2 separate regions of the Homo sapiens genome follow, and region 1 is linked to region 2. The links come from fine-mapping of genetic effects on gene expression. A gene starts in region 2. The other region holds a variant in brackets. All regions are shown on one strand. Distances are between the middles of the regions. Region 1 overlaps RFTN1 (raftlin, lipid raft linker 1). Region 2 holds the start of OXNAD1 (oxidoreductase NAD binding domain containing 1).

The links.
Region 1: its variant is fine-mapped to the expression of OXNAD1 in whole blood (TOPMed, PIP 0.99).

Annotation. Positions count from the first base shown.
Region 1 is chr3:16,344,833-16,353,172 of GRCh38, reverse strand. The region is part of intron 7 of RFTN1 (raftlin, lipid raft linker 1); the gene reads left to right. It also overlaps a transcript of OXNAD1 not described here. Among named protein-coding and RNA genes, the nearest start is that of OXNAD1, 84 kb to the right of the region's middle. The variant T/G (reference allele first, on the strand shown) is at 3,827.
Region 2 is chr3:16,261,895-16,270,234 of GRCh38, reverse strand. OXNAD1 (oxidoreductase NAD binding domain containing 1) reads right to left here and starts at 5,023. Exons shown (of 9, transcript NM_138381.5): 1 at 4,730-5,023; 2 at 960-1,109. It overlaps DPH3 (diphthamide biosynthesis 3), which reads left to right and starts at 5,292. Exons shown (of 3, transcript NM_206831.3): 1 at 5,292-5,466; 2 at 6,006-6,080. The coding sequence starts at 5,359. RefSeq lists an enhancer at 5,151-5,460.

The sequences.
Region 1 (8,340 bases), 83 kb before region 2:
TTTCTGGTAACCACTGTCCTCCCAGGCAGGCCTATAATCTCTAGCTCTCCGACCACAAAACGTCCCTGCCCAGCTCTTTCTCATGTCTCACAGTGGGGACTGGTCTGTCCCTTTCCTGCCTCTTTCCTCCTCCTGTGCTGATCCCTCAGCTCTGTGTAGATGTGCCATTCCAATTCCACCCTGTCTCGCTGGCTTCCCTCTCTCTTCACGTGCATGGACACACGAAAATGTAGTGTGCGGACAGTGCAGCACGTTGGCAAGACAGCGGAGATTCCAGAGTCTGGCCTGAGTGTGCATCCTGCCTCTCTGATTCCAAGCTGAGTGACAGACTATGTGAAAAGTAAACCACACCTGCTTTTTCTATTTTCAGTTGTATAAATGGGGATACTGGTAACAACCTCTCAAAATTGATGAGAATTAAAAGAGAAAATATATTAAAAAGTTGTGAATGTAGGACTGGGCACATAGTAAGCCCTCACTACATACTGCTTTCTGTGTCAGTCACCTGGTATCATCAGTGAGACAGATCCTCCCCCCATTGCCTTCGTTTTATGCTAAAAGCACAGAGGAGGTTGGGCTAGGGAACCTGTAGAGTCAAATACAAATAATTGCATTTTGCTCGGTTGGAAACCTACAGCCTAAAATTAAAGGCATTTGTAAGATAAATGTCTATCCATAGGGCATTTATAACAGGTATTTTGTTTACTTTCTTTGAGTTTACAGTCTAGTATGTGAGCAGAAAGGGTAATTCTTGGAAAGGAAAGGAAAAAACTACATAGATGAATAGGTAAAGAGCAAGATACAGAGACCCTCTTCTTCCCTCTGAATCTGTTTATCTTTGAGCCTGACAGCCCATCAGAGCTTATAGACACCACCAGGTGCTACCTGAGCCATAGAGCCTTTTCCATGTTTATCCCTCTCCCTGGAATATGTTCTAGCATATCAGTGCTTATCGTGAAATTTGGTGCCAGAATGGAACATAAGAGAGTAGAAAAAGCACTTACAGCTGATGCAATTGGTATGGTGGCTGGTGGGTTAATTGAAAAAGCCAATTAAAGAGACCCAAAGCAAATCAGATTCCTATCTTACACATTTTATTTGAATGTAAAGTATGTAAATACATGTCCATTTGCCAGTCTTTTTGAGTTGAGTGTCTGCTGAAGTAGAGTTCTGCCTCATCTTTCTCATATAAACCACACCCAAAGTGTGCTGGCTACAATGCCCAGTGTCAGTTTCTTTAAAATATCAATGGAATCTGACTGCAGAATCCATGTTTTCATGATTTTTTTTTCTAGTCTTTCTAGTCCCCTCACCCAACACACCCCTAATTCAGCCAGTTGTTACTTTTTAGTGATTGTTCTTTGCTGAGTCTATTCAAGGAATTCAACTTAGTTTTTTGAGAAACAACTTGTTTTTGCACTTATAGTTTATATGCTTTTAAATCATTTAAATTAAGACATGTAATTAGGATAATGGGTCTAACTTATATACAGCTTACCCCTGAAGTGCTCAGTTGGTGAGGTCAGAAGGGCATGAGCATCCTAGAAAGCAGCTGCTACCTGCGAGGACTTGACTTCTGTCAGGGTGGACTTGTATTTCTGCAAGTACAGCCTCAGGTAGAATGGCTTAGGGTATCATTACAGCCTCTGCAACCCCGCAGACTTTGTCATGAGGCTCTGGAGTCAGCTCTTCTCCACTCTCTGCCTGCGTATTCAATCTTTTGTTGAGTTAACCCCCATTTTATTTCATACTATTCGCTTCTGCCCATTTCCCCAGCCTGTCAAGACATTTCTGATCATGGATATATCATCCTTCATTCTGGGGATCTTCCAGCCTTGGCTTCCCTGAAGGCTTCATATGTATGGAGGCTCCTGACTGGTCTCAATGGCAAACAGACTGGATCAAGGACACAGTCCTTGGCGCGCTGCAGGAATCTCTCCACCAGTGCCTGACACTAACCCAAACCATTCTGCAGTGGATTCAGGTGGCCCTGTTGTTCCATCTTCCATTCCTCTATTGTATTTACATGAAAGGCTCGATGACACACTTTTCTGTAACTGAAACCTACTCTGGCCTGTAACCCTGTCTCATAATCCTGTGAATCCTGTGTAATAACACATTAGGTCTCACTTGTTCTTCATGAAGTTCTGCAGGTTTCTGGGGCTCAAGCTTTTGCTTTCAAAGGCTCCCAACCATCTCTTTAAGAATCCACTCTAGGATTTGCCAGGGAGTAACATCAATTTCTATGGTTTCTAGAATTCACAAGGGAGCCAATATTTGTTCTTTTTAAACCATCTGGCTTTTTTCTTCTATTGCCACAGTTTCTCCAAGATAATTACTTTGGTTCTGAGATCATAGTCTTTAGTGCCAAAGACAGCAGTTCTCTGCCTTTTTCCTGTGATAGGGATGATTTTCCTGTGAATAATCACTCCCATGAAAGGCCCAGGAATCAACACCCAAACCCCTCCCAGGCTGCATCTCCATCCTTTCCCACTGCAAAGCAAATCATAGCACAGGTGAGTAACGAGGAAGTCAGAATAGCCTCAGATCTACTTTAGCAGCGCCTTCAGTACTTTGACTTTTATCAAATTCTTGTGTGCCACTCACCTTGACAGTTACACACCTGTTTACAGAATAGTATGTATGGATGAGTGCCTTTTCCTTTAAAAAAAAAAAAAAAGTGATTCATCTCAGCTTGAGCTCATTTAAAATTTTCAAGTTTGCTTCAGAGGGCAAACTGCTAACATCTGTTAACAATTTGAAATGCCCACGCCCATCCATGACTCAGCAATTTCATACTTCATGTCCATCTCTTCTAAAGAAACAAATGCATGTGTTCACAAGAAGGCATAGACAAGGATATTATCTCAGCATTACTTGTAATATCAAAAAAGGTAATAATGTTCATGTCCATCAGTAGGGGAATGGTTAAACAAAGGATAATATATTCTTATTATAGATGAGGTCATTCTGTATAAGCTGACATGGAAGGAATTACAGGAAATGTTAAACGAGAAAATTAAGTTGCAGAATTGTCCTGTGATGGTTAATTTTATGTCAGCTTTGTTGGGCTATAGTACTCACTTACTTGATCAAACACCAATCTAGATGTTGCTATGAAAGTATTTTTAGATGTGATTAACATTCCACTCAGTAGAAGAGTAAAGCACATTACCCTTCCTAATGTGAGTGGACTTCAATCAGTTGAAGGCCTTAAGAAAAAAGATTGAGATCCCGGAAGAGGAAGGAATTCAGCCTGCAGACTCAAAACTGCAACATCGACTCCTGCTGGAATATCCAGCCTGCTGGGCTACCCTGCAAACTTTGGATTTTACATCCTCCACAGTCATGTAAGCCAGTTCCTCAAAATGAATCTTTCTAGATACAAGATAGCCTACTGATTCTCTTTCTCAGGAGAATCCTGATGAATCAGATACAAATGCTGTGATGCCATTAATGGGGAGAAAACTTCACAGTCTCTTAGACTTTAGCCAAATTTGTCTCCTTGTAGAAAAGCAAGTAAAATAGGAGTTGAATAATCCCATTTTTATTGTCTTGAACATACCCTTTTCTTGTGCAACTTCTTGCTTTGAGCATGATTTTAAATGGCGTATGTGTATACGTGTGCACACATGCACATACGTAGTTCACATACCTCATCTCATTCTAGGCTGAGGTGCATGTGTGTATACCTCACGCCACCTGCACACCTCAGCTCATTCCAGGCTCAACATTCCTCCTCTTTTGGGTTTGCCTTACTTTTGTCACCATCCCTGGAGGCTCAGGTACCCCCTTCTGTCCTTATAAATTCACACTCATCCATCTC[T/G]ACAGCCACAGTGGTTTTCCTTAGTTGCCTCCAACTTTTATCTTAGGGTGACAAGTCCACCTGGAGCCAGCATGCCTGTATTTCTTGCCATGGGGCCATATTGAACTTTCCTCTGAGCCTCTGAAATTCTTTTTCTTCTTGTCTCTGGAGATGGCCGCTAGTACTCTTCTGCTGTTAGGAACGTCACAGAGAAAAGCTTAGTTTATACAGTTTGTGTTGCCCAGGTAAGTCATTTCCCTTCCCATAATGATGGGGAAGAGATTACATTTAGAAATAGTGACCCCAAAAGGCCATGATCTGATTATTGAGTCCTGACTTCTGATCTGAAACTTTGACCCTGTCCTTGGATAGTGGAGCCTGGGATGGCTGTCTGTCCCTCTTTTACCTCTTTTAGCCAGAATTTTCCCTCTGCCTCCTCCTTGGCAGCAGCCACTTGCTCGGGTGTTCTGAAATGTGTGTGGATTGTGGCAGTGGCAGGACACAGAGATGATGGGCTATTGGACCAAAACCAGTCCTCCTGCTTCCCAGTGGGGCAGGTGGGCTGGACTTAATCCATGAAAGAGTACATAAAAAATGAGAAAGAACCACTTGAGATGGTGATTAGGGGTTCCATAACAGAACCCTCAGGGAACTGGGAAACTCCATAGGCTCAAAGAGAGTGACTACTTTTTGATGCCCAGGAACAAGGATGCAAAGGGGCATTTGCTGAGGCCCCACACATCAAGGAGCCTCGGGAAGAAGACATCCTACAAAGGAAATGGGAAGGCATTCAAGGCTAATTGTGCCCTGCTGACCAGAAGTGCCCTGGGAGAGAGCAGAGACTGAACAAGGCCTCCTGGACACAGTGGGCTCCAGCTGGGTATTGGCAAGTCAAGCCAGGACTTGGATGGGCTAAGGGAATTGAGTGTGGGGGCTTCCTGCTGTGGGAAGTGACAGGAGCAGAGGCCAGCTGGAAGAGAAGGCACATCTATTAATTTTTTTTTATAATTAGAACACATATTGGATAATGTGGATGATCTCCTAGATGCCTTCAATAATAGATAATGTGGGTGATCTCCTAGACGCCTCTGATTATGGATAATGTCAGTGATCTAGATGCCTCGGCTTCCTTTTTACCATCATGCTTTCACCTCAAACAGGCAGCACTTGTGCCTCTTAGCAAAGCCCTGCTCCTGAGCTCCAGGAGCCTGCCCTGCTTTAAGCAACAAGAGCCACAAGTGCTCCGAGGTGGTCCTCGTCGATGACAGAGGAGTGTGGGTGTATGAAAGCCCTGCTCCCTGGCCTCAGATGGGGACAACTCTGAGCATAACTCACCCCTCAGAGCTCCCCACAGGATCAGACTGAGCCGCTGGTCACGGGATGTTCTTAAAATTGTGTCCTTCCTGGGCTGCTTCTACTCTGTTGTACGACTTCTCCCGCTCCCTCACTGGCAGCACATCCTTAATAAGTTACTTGCACGTGAATACTTGTTTTAGGGTCTCCTTATAGGGAACCTGACCTAAGAGCATGTGTAAAAAAGTCCCATTGAGGAATATTACATTGCAAATCGAGATAAAAGTTATTGGAGGCTTTATAATAATTTTAAACAAAATGCTTACAGTGCAAATGTGTATATAGTAAAGACTGAATCCTCCTCTCTCCTCTGACCCTCAATTCCCTAGTTCCCCTTTCACAGAGAAAGCTCCTTCCAGAGAGGAGGTGGTGTACACACAGAGGTGAGTGTGCACACAGAGGTGGGTATGCATCTGTGTAACAGAGAGGCAGAGGGAGATTTTATACACATAGAGGTGAAGGCAGAGTAGAGAGTTGAAAATGCTTTGAAGATTGGAGTAGTGAGGCCACAAGACAAGAAATGCCAGCAGCCACTAGTGCTGGAAAAAAACAATGAGCGGATTCTCCCCCTAGCCTCCAAAAGGAGCATGGGCCTGTTATAACCTTGACTTTTGACCCAGTGATACTGATTTTGAACTTCTGGCTTCCAGAACTGTGAGAAATTTCTATTGTTGTAATCCACCAATTTTGTGGTCATTTGTTATAGCCCCCCCTAGAAAATGGATATAACATGCATGGACGTCTCTCCAGGGTTGCCCTGTAGGGTGTCCTTGACAGTATGTTTGCATGTGAAAAGTCTGGGGAAGACCGTGTGGGTGAGGCAAGGGCCTGGATTTTTGCAATGGGTTGAAGGGAGCCATAGTGGGATTTTCATCAGAGAGCTGTACACTGGGACAATTGGCCCTGGAGAAAGGGCCAGAATGGGGGAAAGGCCAACAGAAGCCCAGGGAAATAGAATAAGGGTGGTGGTCATGGGTATCAGTTGGGTTGCTTTCCACCGTTCATAGCAGGAAATCCAACTAAAAGTGGCTTAAGCCGTAGGGGTGTTCATCTCATCTCATTGAGCAGGAAGTCTAGAGCAAGGTGGGGAGGTTGCAGAGTCAGCTTTGTCAACAGCTTAAAGATGCCACCAGGGATCCAGATGTTGCCATCTTTCTGTACTCATCCTCAGCCTGTCTGCAGGGCTCTCCTTATGATCCTCCTCACAAGGTGACTGTGGCAATTCTAGGTGTCTCATGCAAATGTGATGACAACCGTGAAGAACGGGGCAGTTTTTTCCTGCCACACGTCCCTTTTTATTAGCAAGTAAAAGCTTTCCCAGAAACCCACAACAGAGATTTCCTCAGGTCTCATTGGCCAGGACTGAGTCACAGACCCATGCCACTTGTCAAGAGTCATGGTTGTCCAGGCCTGGGGGGTGTCAGTGAGGAAGAAGCCCTGGGCCATCGAGGGGCTGTTGGCTTTGGCAGCCAACAGAATGTGCCACTGAGGGGGACTAGCAAGGCAGGATGCTCCTAGAGGTATTTTCAAGAAGACTGGACTTGTTGACGGTTTGGATAATGAGATGACAAAAGGAAGTATTTGACCTTTAATCTTTATCTGCACTTTTTTCTTCCATAAACTCAATTGTCCTATTTTCTCAGACAGCCATATTTCACTTCATATACAAAATTTAGTGATACAAGTAAGTTATATCTTTTTAAAAATTTATCCAACAAATAAATATTGAGTTCCTACTGTGTGTCAGCCACTGTGAGAGCATGATGAATGGATGAAATTCAGGCAGGAAGGATTGATTCCATTTAGTCAAGGGAAGGTGTGTAGTCATTAAAAATGAATGTGCACCCCCTGGCCTTTCCACATTCATCAATAATTCCTCTTCATTGTCAAGCTTCCTGAGGGGTGCTGGAAGACCCTAAATCATAGGAACCTTTTCAATCTGACGAGGGGAGAGGCAAGTATGCCGTTCTGGTGAAGATCATGGGGCAAAGTGAATTTTGATTCTTGCTGCAGAGGAAGAGAGGATGAAACAAATGATCACGTTTTCAAAATCCTGTGACAAATGCGGTTTAAAATATTCAGTGTATGCCACAGAACAACAAGAAAGAAGTGTATTAGGGTTCTCCAGTAAAACAGAACCAGTAGGAGATTATACACATACACATGCACATGTGCGCGTGCGCGCACGCGCGCGCGCACACACACACACACACACACACACACACAGAGATTTATTATAAGGTTTTGGCTCATGTGATTATGGAGGCTGAGGAGTCCCACAGTCTGCTATCTGCAAGCTGGAGACCCAGGAAAGCCAGTGGTATGGTTCAGAGGCCTGAGAGCTAGCAGCTGATGGTGTGGACTCCAGTCCAGGTCCCAAGCCCTGAGAACCAGGAGCAACAAGGGCAGAAGATGGACGTTCCTGTTCAAGCAGTCAGGCGGTGTTAATTCAGCCTTCCTCCACCCTTTGTTCTGTTCAGGTCCTCAATGACTGGATGGTGTCCACCCACACTGGGGAGGGCCATCTGGTCTACTCAGTTGACCCATTCAAATGCTAATCTTTTCCAGAAACACCCTCACAACATGCCCAAAAATAATGTTTATGCATCCTGTGGCAAGTTAAGGGCTCAATGTGATAACAGGGGCTATATCTTTAGGTTTTCCCAATGTGTTTGAGATAAAAAAGTGGGAGATAATTCTATAACAGCTTTAAACACACACACACACACACACACACACACACACACACAACCACCTACTTATTATCTTACAGTTTCTGTGGGCCAGAAATCCAGGTGGGCTGAACTGGGTCGTCTGCTGCTTAGGGTCTCAAAACACTGAAATGGGATGTCAGCAGAGCTGTGTGCCTTATTAGAGGTTTTGGTGGGGAAGAATCCACTTCCAAGCTCACTTAGGTTGTTGGCCTTGTGGTTGCAGGTCTGAGGTCCTTGTTTTCTTGCAGGCAGTTATCCAGGAGCTGGTCCTTGCTCCTGGGGGCTGCCCCCATTTCTTATGCTTTCCATGTGGCCCCCTAAAAGAGCTTAAAATGCATAGTTTGAGAGCCACAGATGAAGAGAGGGCAAATGGTTCTCCAGAGAGAACTGAAGTATATTAAATCAGTGAGCATAAAAGGTTGGGGGGTGTTCTTGTAGTTATGTGTTCACTCACTACCACTCCTTGAA
Region 2 (8,340 bases):
TGAATCCATGATGTCAGAAATCAAGTTAGCAATTTCCCTTGGGAGGTGGTAGTGACAATGTTGCTTCTTAATCTGGGTGCGGATTGCATGGGTATTTTCACTTTTTGTAAAAACTGATTAAGCTGTCCTCTTAGGATCTGTGTAGTTTTCTGTTTGTACTTGAACTTCAACAAAAAGTTAAACACACACACAGATTCTTCAACATTTCAAATTCTAAAAACTACCAGCCTGTCAAGAAAAGCACTGATTAGGAGTCAGATGATATTTCTTTTTGGTTCCTTTTCCATCATTTTCCTATGTCAATTTTTAAACATTTCTTTGTCTAAAATGGCCACATTTAACATGTTACATTGCTCTATTTGTCCATCTTAGTTACCTTGAGAATAAATGAAAATGCATGTGAATACTTTTTTTTCTGAGCTTTTTGGGAGGCAGTATATAAATTAATTGTGATAAATTGCTGTTAGCAAAATATTCAAGCTAAGTGTTTACATTCCTACTCCATATTCATTAATTTGGTCCTTCATTCAACGAGTATCTATCAAGAGTCCACTATGTGGCAGGCACTGGCCTAAGCAATGGTGCTTTAGGCATGAAGAAAACAAAAACTCTCTTAGAGAGCTTGCATTCCAATAGATGAAGACAGAAAATAAATAAAAATAAATAAATCTGATGGTGATATAAGTCATATGCAGTTTATTTGGTTATACCCAAATCATATTAAAAAGCTCACTGCTTCATAACTAGTCTTTAGATAAACGATATATTTCTTCTTGTCATAGTATGTTGCAGCATCATTGCGGATAAGCATGCTACTTGCTATTTTTCTCTTTACTAAATGAAAAAAGCAGAAGGCCTCTTCAACCTCATTCAAGACCACTAAACGTAGTTTTTCTCCATTAAATGTTCTAAGTCAATAATGTTACCTTAATCCCTGAAAGAAAGAAGTTGAAACTTACCTTAGAAGTCCACGAGATTTTAGGAGTCATTAAGTATATGGTCAGCTGATTGACAGAATATTTTGGTCCTGCTATTACACTGAGACTTTTGGATGTACAGCAGTTGGAACATGGACAGCTTTTCCATGCATTAAAATTCTCACAAAGTTCCTGCAATGGCACAAACAACATATAACAATGTTTTGGGGAACTGATCAAAAGCACTATTACCTCTTAGCTGCCAAAGGAAAGGCTCATTAAAATCAGTAGGCATCACCTCACAACAAGCCCACTCTCAATTACCCCCTCTCCATCCATTCTTTCCTCCATGCTTCCATTTTTCTTTTTTGATTATTTATCTTACAGCTTATTTTGTTCATCTTCCTTGCCTGTCTTTAACACCTGCTACTTAGGATATCCACCCCAGGAAACAGCAGACCAAAGGCTAGAATGACACAGTTACATGTCATTTAAGGCCAAGTTCCCTGATAAAATTTAACCACTATATTGTTAAATATGGAAATACTGTTCTGTTCAATGTTTTAGACAACTATTGCTAAAATAAGTTGTCCTCACAATAGGATACATCATTTAATGATTATGCTGTTTGAATGGTCCCCTTCTCAACTGAACTGGAAAACAAATGTTAATTTTAAAAGTAGTTCTTCCCGGGCACAGTGGCTCATATCTGTAATCCCAGCACTTTGGGAGGATGAGGTGGGTAGATCGCCTGAGGTCAGGAGTTTGAGACCAGCCTGGTCAACATGGTGAAACCCCATCTCTACTAAAAATACAAAAAATTAGCTAGGTGTGGTGTCGGGCGCCTATAATCCCAGTTACTAAGGAGGCTGAGGCAAGAGAATCGCTTGAACCTGGGAGGCGGAGGTTGCAGTGGGCCAAGATCATGCCATTACACTCCAGCCTGGGCAACAAGAGCGAAACTCAGTCTCAAAAAAAAAAAAAAAAAAAAAAAAAAAAAAAAAGGAGTTCTCTTTAAAATCCTAAGATTTTATTTTGTGAAAGTAACCATGACCAAGAGTGCCACCTACTGGTAAATAAAGGACATTTTTATAAAATTCTGTTTAAAGTGCTTTCCAAAGCTTTATGCCAGTCCTTTAAATAAAATATAAAAAATTTAAAACCTACTAATTTTTTGAAATATGTCCGGCGGTTCCATACTGTAAGCATTTAATCAACCACAGCAGATCAATATATATCAAGTTATTTCTAAAACCATATAAAGTAGACCATCCCATCAATGTCTGTATCCTCACAGGCCTTCCCTTACCAAAAAATCTTAATTAACTTTATTTCTGAAATGCAGAAAAGTATAATAAGTGCTAAATAAAACTGACACCCATTAAATATGTAGTAAAACAAACTTCTGAAAGCAACAGATTAAATTTAACATTTAAGATTAATTATATGGTTTCAGTTCAACAGGTATACTCAGTTCATTCAACAACTACAGGGGTGCCAGGCACTATTTTAGGCCTTGGAGATATAATAAAGAACCAGACGCAAGGCCCTTGCCATCATGAAGCTTTTATTACAGTTCCAGAGACAGATAGTAGTAAACAAATAACAAGATAATTATAGATTATGATGAGTATGATAAAGGGAGTAAGAGTGATGGGGTAGGTGGGGGAAATATCAAGAAAGACATCTCTCCAGTGATGACACCTTGGCTGAGATCTGAATGATGAGGAAAAGGCGGCCAAGCAAATGTTAAAGGCAGACAACTCTGGCAGAAGGACTAGCAAGAGCAAAGGTCCAACACAGAAATAAGCCCGGCATGTTAAAGGAACCAAGGCCAGTGTGACTGGAGAGCAGTAAGCTGGTAAGAGTGAAATGAGATGAAGTCCAGCAGTCTATAGTAAGGGTAAGAATTTTATCCTAAGGGTAATGGGAAGCAACTGAAAAGTCTGAATCAATCAGGAGAAGGACAAGACCTAATTTATATTTTTAAAGGACTGCTCAAGTTGCTGTGGGAAGGATAACAGAGGGAGAGGGGCAGGAGTGGAAGCAGGAAACCCAGTTAAAAGACTCTGGTCTAAGATTATAATAAGGTAACAGCTACAGAGATGGCAGAAGTAGATGAACATGACATATATTTTGGAATTAGAGCCCCAAAACTTGCTGATACATTAGGCAGGGTGTGAGAGGACACTGACAGAGAAAAGCCAAGAATGCCTCAATAAGCATAAATGCACTGAAATTAAGTAAGTTCAAAGAACAATCATGACATCTGTCAATTTAGAATCTTAGGTGTCACTGAGGAAGAAAAAGGGCTCCTCTTGCTCCAACAGGCAAAGACACCTTAGTGGTAAACAAGTAGTATACACAGAGTATTTGACCGGAAATCAGCGGAACTGGGCTCAGGTGTGACTCCTTCCTGCTTTCTAATCTTCAGCAAGTCTCCTCTTGCCATTTTAACATTACCCACGCCACCTCACTGGATTACTGAGAGGAATAAATAAAATGTCTACCAAAGTACCTGGCAAGCAACAGTGTTACTAAAATCAATCCTAATACATTGACCCCTTCTCTTCCTTGTCAAACAACCTAGAGAGGTGGAGGTTTGGTATTGCCAATAAACAACTCCTTCTGGCCTGATATACAACAGCACTCATCAAATATAGTTTGCATTATACAATTATGACCTACTTCTTTTTTTTTTTTTTTTTTTTTTTTGAGACAGCGTCTAGCTCTGTCGCCCAGGCTGGAGTGCAGTGGCGTGATCTCAGCTCACTGCAATCTCTGCCTTCCAGGTTCAAGAGATTCTCCTGCCTCAGCCTCCTGAGTGGCTGGGATTACAGGCACACCACCACACCTGGCTAATTTGTGTATTTTTTAGTAAAGACGGGGCTTCATCATGTTGGTCAGGCTGGTCTCGTATTCCTGACCTCGTGATCCGCCCTTTTAGGAATAAATGTAAAGTTTAGTAGTCATTGTAATGTTTTCTTCAAAAGTGCACAGGGATATATTATGTATATGTGTTACGTAAATGTAAACTAAATGTTATATATCATTGCTGAACCAAGTAAAGCTCATAATTTCCGTGCAAAAGTGGAACATTACATCTAAAAAGGATCTTATATCATCTCTACTCCAATCCTTTCTTAGAAGAGGAAATAAGGCCCAAAGAATGTAAATATCCAGTTGCCAGAGGTAATCAACAACTCAAGATTCCGATCCCAGATCTTCTCTCGAAAGTGCTTTTTCACTACAATGCATTTCTTCTCTACTAAGATATTAAAATGCCTAGTAATTAAGTAAGACCCAATGTAATCGGTTTTACCAAAACAGGCACTAGCACTGCTTTCAAGACAAAAATGCCTTTTATCTGCATTTCGCTTCAAGGCATACATAGGCCTCACACTGATAAACCTGCCTACTGACACCATTTCTTTCACAACGAAAAAACTGGTACTCACATAAGTAATTTGTTCCTGGGCTTTGGAGACAGACAAGCTCTTCATTATTTCCCAGGTGTATGATTTTAGTCAAGATGCCCAACTCTCTGTACCTCAGTTTAAAGATTAATAAAATGGAATAACATGTAAACTCCTAGAGTTGACAATTCCACTTAGTGCAATAGCTGGCACATAACTTCCCAATAATAAAAGGTGATGTTATTACTATTACTAAAAATCATCGTCGTTAATAATGTTATAAGCCTGGCAAACAGAAGACTAGAACTCAATCCCTGCCTTCCAGGGCTTGGTCCTTTCAGCAACACAATTTAGGGTATTTTAAGGCGTCTGGGGTGAGGAAGAAGCGGAATGTACCTGCAGCCAGGAATTAACAAGCTGACCGTCGCCCTGGGCTCAAGGTCACTCGGTGAAGCGAAATTCTACGGGAACTGTTCGTCCGTCACCAGGAAGGGAGGTCGAGGAGGCTAAGCTGCTCTCGCCTCCCCACCCCGCCTTTCCCGAGGGCCGGGAGGCTGCTACCTAGCACCTGCTGCAGCCTTCAGCGGGCTATTTAAGGCGTTAAAGCAGACGATAAGAAGCAGGGAAACTTTCCCCGCTGGCACCTAGCTTGCAGACCCGGCCACGTTTAGTTGCAGGCGCCTGGAATACTCCGCGGTCCCAGACGTGACGTAGCAGCGCGGGCGAGCCCCACATTCTATTGGTCGCTGCCGCCCAATAGGAGGAGCGGTGCGCGACCCCGCTGAGCAAGCTTTCAGTCTTCCCAGTGTCTCCGCCCCTAGTTCAGCCATCTCCATGGTGACCGCTACCGGTTATCCATTTGGCCGCGCAGGGCGGAGTTGCGTCATTGCCTATGCGCCGGAAGGGCTAGTCCTTGCCCGGCGCGACCTGATGATGCCGAGCCCAGGCCGGTTCCGGCGAAGTTAAACCCTCGGAGCTGGCCTCGGACTGCTGGGGCGTTACCCCTTCGGCCACCCCCGCTGACCATGGCAGTGTTTCATGACGAGGTGGAAATCGAGGACTTCCAATATGACGAGGACTCGGAGACGTATTTCTATCCCTGCCCATGTGGAGATAACTTCTCCATCACCAAGGTAACTTCAGGGTCCCGCCCGGCGGTTCACCCAAGCAAGCGCAGTTTGGTTCCGCCCGTTCCTTCCATCATTGGGTAGCCTTTGCTGCGCTGTGTCACCCACGCCCTCTTTCCCGTTGCTGAATCTTCCTCCTCCCGCGTCCCCCCACCCCAACTAATGCCCTGAGCTCTCTCGGTAGGCACGCAGTTCTGGCCTTAGATTAGGTCAGGGAGAGGGTGGCGGAGAGCCTCTGTCTCTCTGCCCGATCCCTGCCTTAGGGTCCCAACCTGGGATATTTCTGTCGAGGAGGGGACTCGTTTTTTGTTTCCCAGGGCTTTTGGGGCGACCGAAGCTCGCCTGACCTTCCTAGGTGTTTCCCCTAAGTGACGCTTCTAGGGGAAAATGATGTCGGCATTTCTCGCTGAAGGCCCTGGGGTTCTCACCCACCTTGGGGGGAAGGCAAGCCACCAAGAGACTTGCATCTAGGGGTGGGATAGGTTTGGGGGAGGAGATGGCGAAGAGAAGCTATCCTGACCACATGGTATTTGATTTCGTTGTAGGAAGATTTGGAGAATGGGGAAGACGTGGCAACGTGTCCTAGCTGCTCTCTCATTATAAAAGTGATTTATGACAAAGTAAGGGATATAATTTTAAAACGGGGGAAGGGTATTGTAAGTCAGTGGCAAGGACTTAGATCAGCTTGTCAGTGATGAGTGCAGGAGAATGTTTCATTGTGCTAGGTAAAGTGCGGTATTTTTTTAGGCAGGTTTTAAACACCATTGATAAACAGCCGAATAGTAAATTAAAACGTTTAAAGTTCAGATTACGTAATTTATTTTAGCTTTAGAGATAAATCTAGCTTTAGTGAAAATTATTATTTATTAAATAGAAAGTATATAGATTATTTTAGTGGACAATTTTTTATATTTCTCTTCTATTTAATATGTAATTAAAATTGTTTAGAGCTGCTAGACTTACTTTGAAGGGAACAATTGTATGGTATTTCGTGCTGGCTTATACACAGAATTCTGCATTATCTTGTTTGAGATATAATTCCTAGGTGCAGCTTTACAATTTCATTTTAGTCTTTAGTTGCCCTATTATCTTTCACCCAAGGATGTTGACAATAGAAAAAAAAAATGTTATTACTGCCCACTCCTACCCAAAGTTTTGTTCAGTACTTGGAATGGAATCTTAGGTAAGGACCTTAACACTCTCAAGGATGAAGTCCAAAATGAATATAGGGAAAGTGGGGATGAGGCACAGAGCCTCATGAGAGAAGCGGGCTATAATTTAGACTATAATTTAGAAATATAATGATTCATTCTTGTATTAAAATGTGCTCTGCAACAGAAAGCAAACGGTAAGGAAGATCAGGAGTGCTGGTCTGGGAGGAAGTTGCAGTTTTCCATAGGGTGATCATGGCAGGCCTTACTGAGAAAGGCCTTAATAGGTAAAGATTTGAAGGAGGTGAGGGAGTGAGCCATGTACATATGAGGGTATGAGGTAAGAGAGTCGAGCAAAGGATCGTTCAGTGAAGGGGACCTAAGACAGGAACATGCCTGATTTTATCAAGGAACAAAAAGGAGGCCAGTGTGACCAGAGCAGAGCAGGATGAGAGTAGCGTAAGAAGTTGTGGATCACTTTAAGGACTTAGGCTCTTGTTGTGAGTGATATAGGGAACCATTGGGGGATTTTTGAACATAGGAGTGCTATGATCCAACTTAAGTTTTTTAAAAAATGATTCTGGCTGCTGTGTTCAGAGTAGCCTATAGAGAGCAAGCATAGAAACAGGAAAACCAGTGTAATAGGAGGCTATTACACTAATTAAAGAAGGAGATGGGTGGCTTGGACCTGGTTACAGCAATGGAAATAATGAGAAGTACTTAGATTCTGGATACGCTTTGAATAACTGATTGGATATAGGGTGTGAAGGAGTGAGACAAGGATGATTTCAATATTTGTGACCTTAATAACTGGGAGGATGGAGTTACTGTCAATTGAGGGAATGTAACTATAGGTATAGGGGTTGAAATTGTACATACTAAGTGAGAGGTCTGTCATCCAAGTTGAGCTGTTGAGAAGGCAATTGGATATGCATGTCTGGCGTTCATGAGAGAGATTGGCTAGCAATGTCAATTTGGGAGTTATCAGTAACAGATAGCATTTAGAGCCATGAGATTGGATGAGACCACCAGGTCTGTGAATGTAGAGATGGATAAAATACAGGACTGAGCCTTAAGGCACTACAGTATTAAAAAGTCAGGGAGGGAAGCGAGGAATCACCAAAGCTGATGGTAAAGGAGAAACCACTGAGAAAGGAGGAAAATCAGCAGTGTCAAATCCTGGAAACCAGATGAGAAAGGATTGAGGAAGTGGTGATCCTTGTCACGTGACACTGATAGGAAGCAATCAAGAATTAACCATTAGCTTTAGCAACACTGAGTTCATCTGTGACGGAGATGAGAGCAGTTTCCATGGAGTAACAGGAACAGCGCATGAGTGAAGAAACCAATGGGCAGAATACTGGTTGGAGAGAATGAGAGAACAGAAGGCAGTGAGTATAGGCATTTCTTTTAAGGAGTTTGCTGCAAAGGAGAGCACAGACATGGGACAGTAACCAGTGGTGATAGAGGATCAAGAGAGGGTTTAAGGTGGTAGAAATTCAGCCTTCATTAGTGAATATAGACATGGAAAGTTAGATTTAACCAGGTTTAAGGTTTTCCCAAGTGAATAGTAAGGAGTGAGAGAAGAGTGGTTATAACTGACCATGGAGTTTGAACTAGGTAAAGAGAACATGAAGGGAGTGAGGGGCAGTGAAAGGGTGGTAGGATGAATATGGTGGAGGTCCAGAGGGGTTGGAATATGGCATCCAGGGTGGATAAATGACAGCAA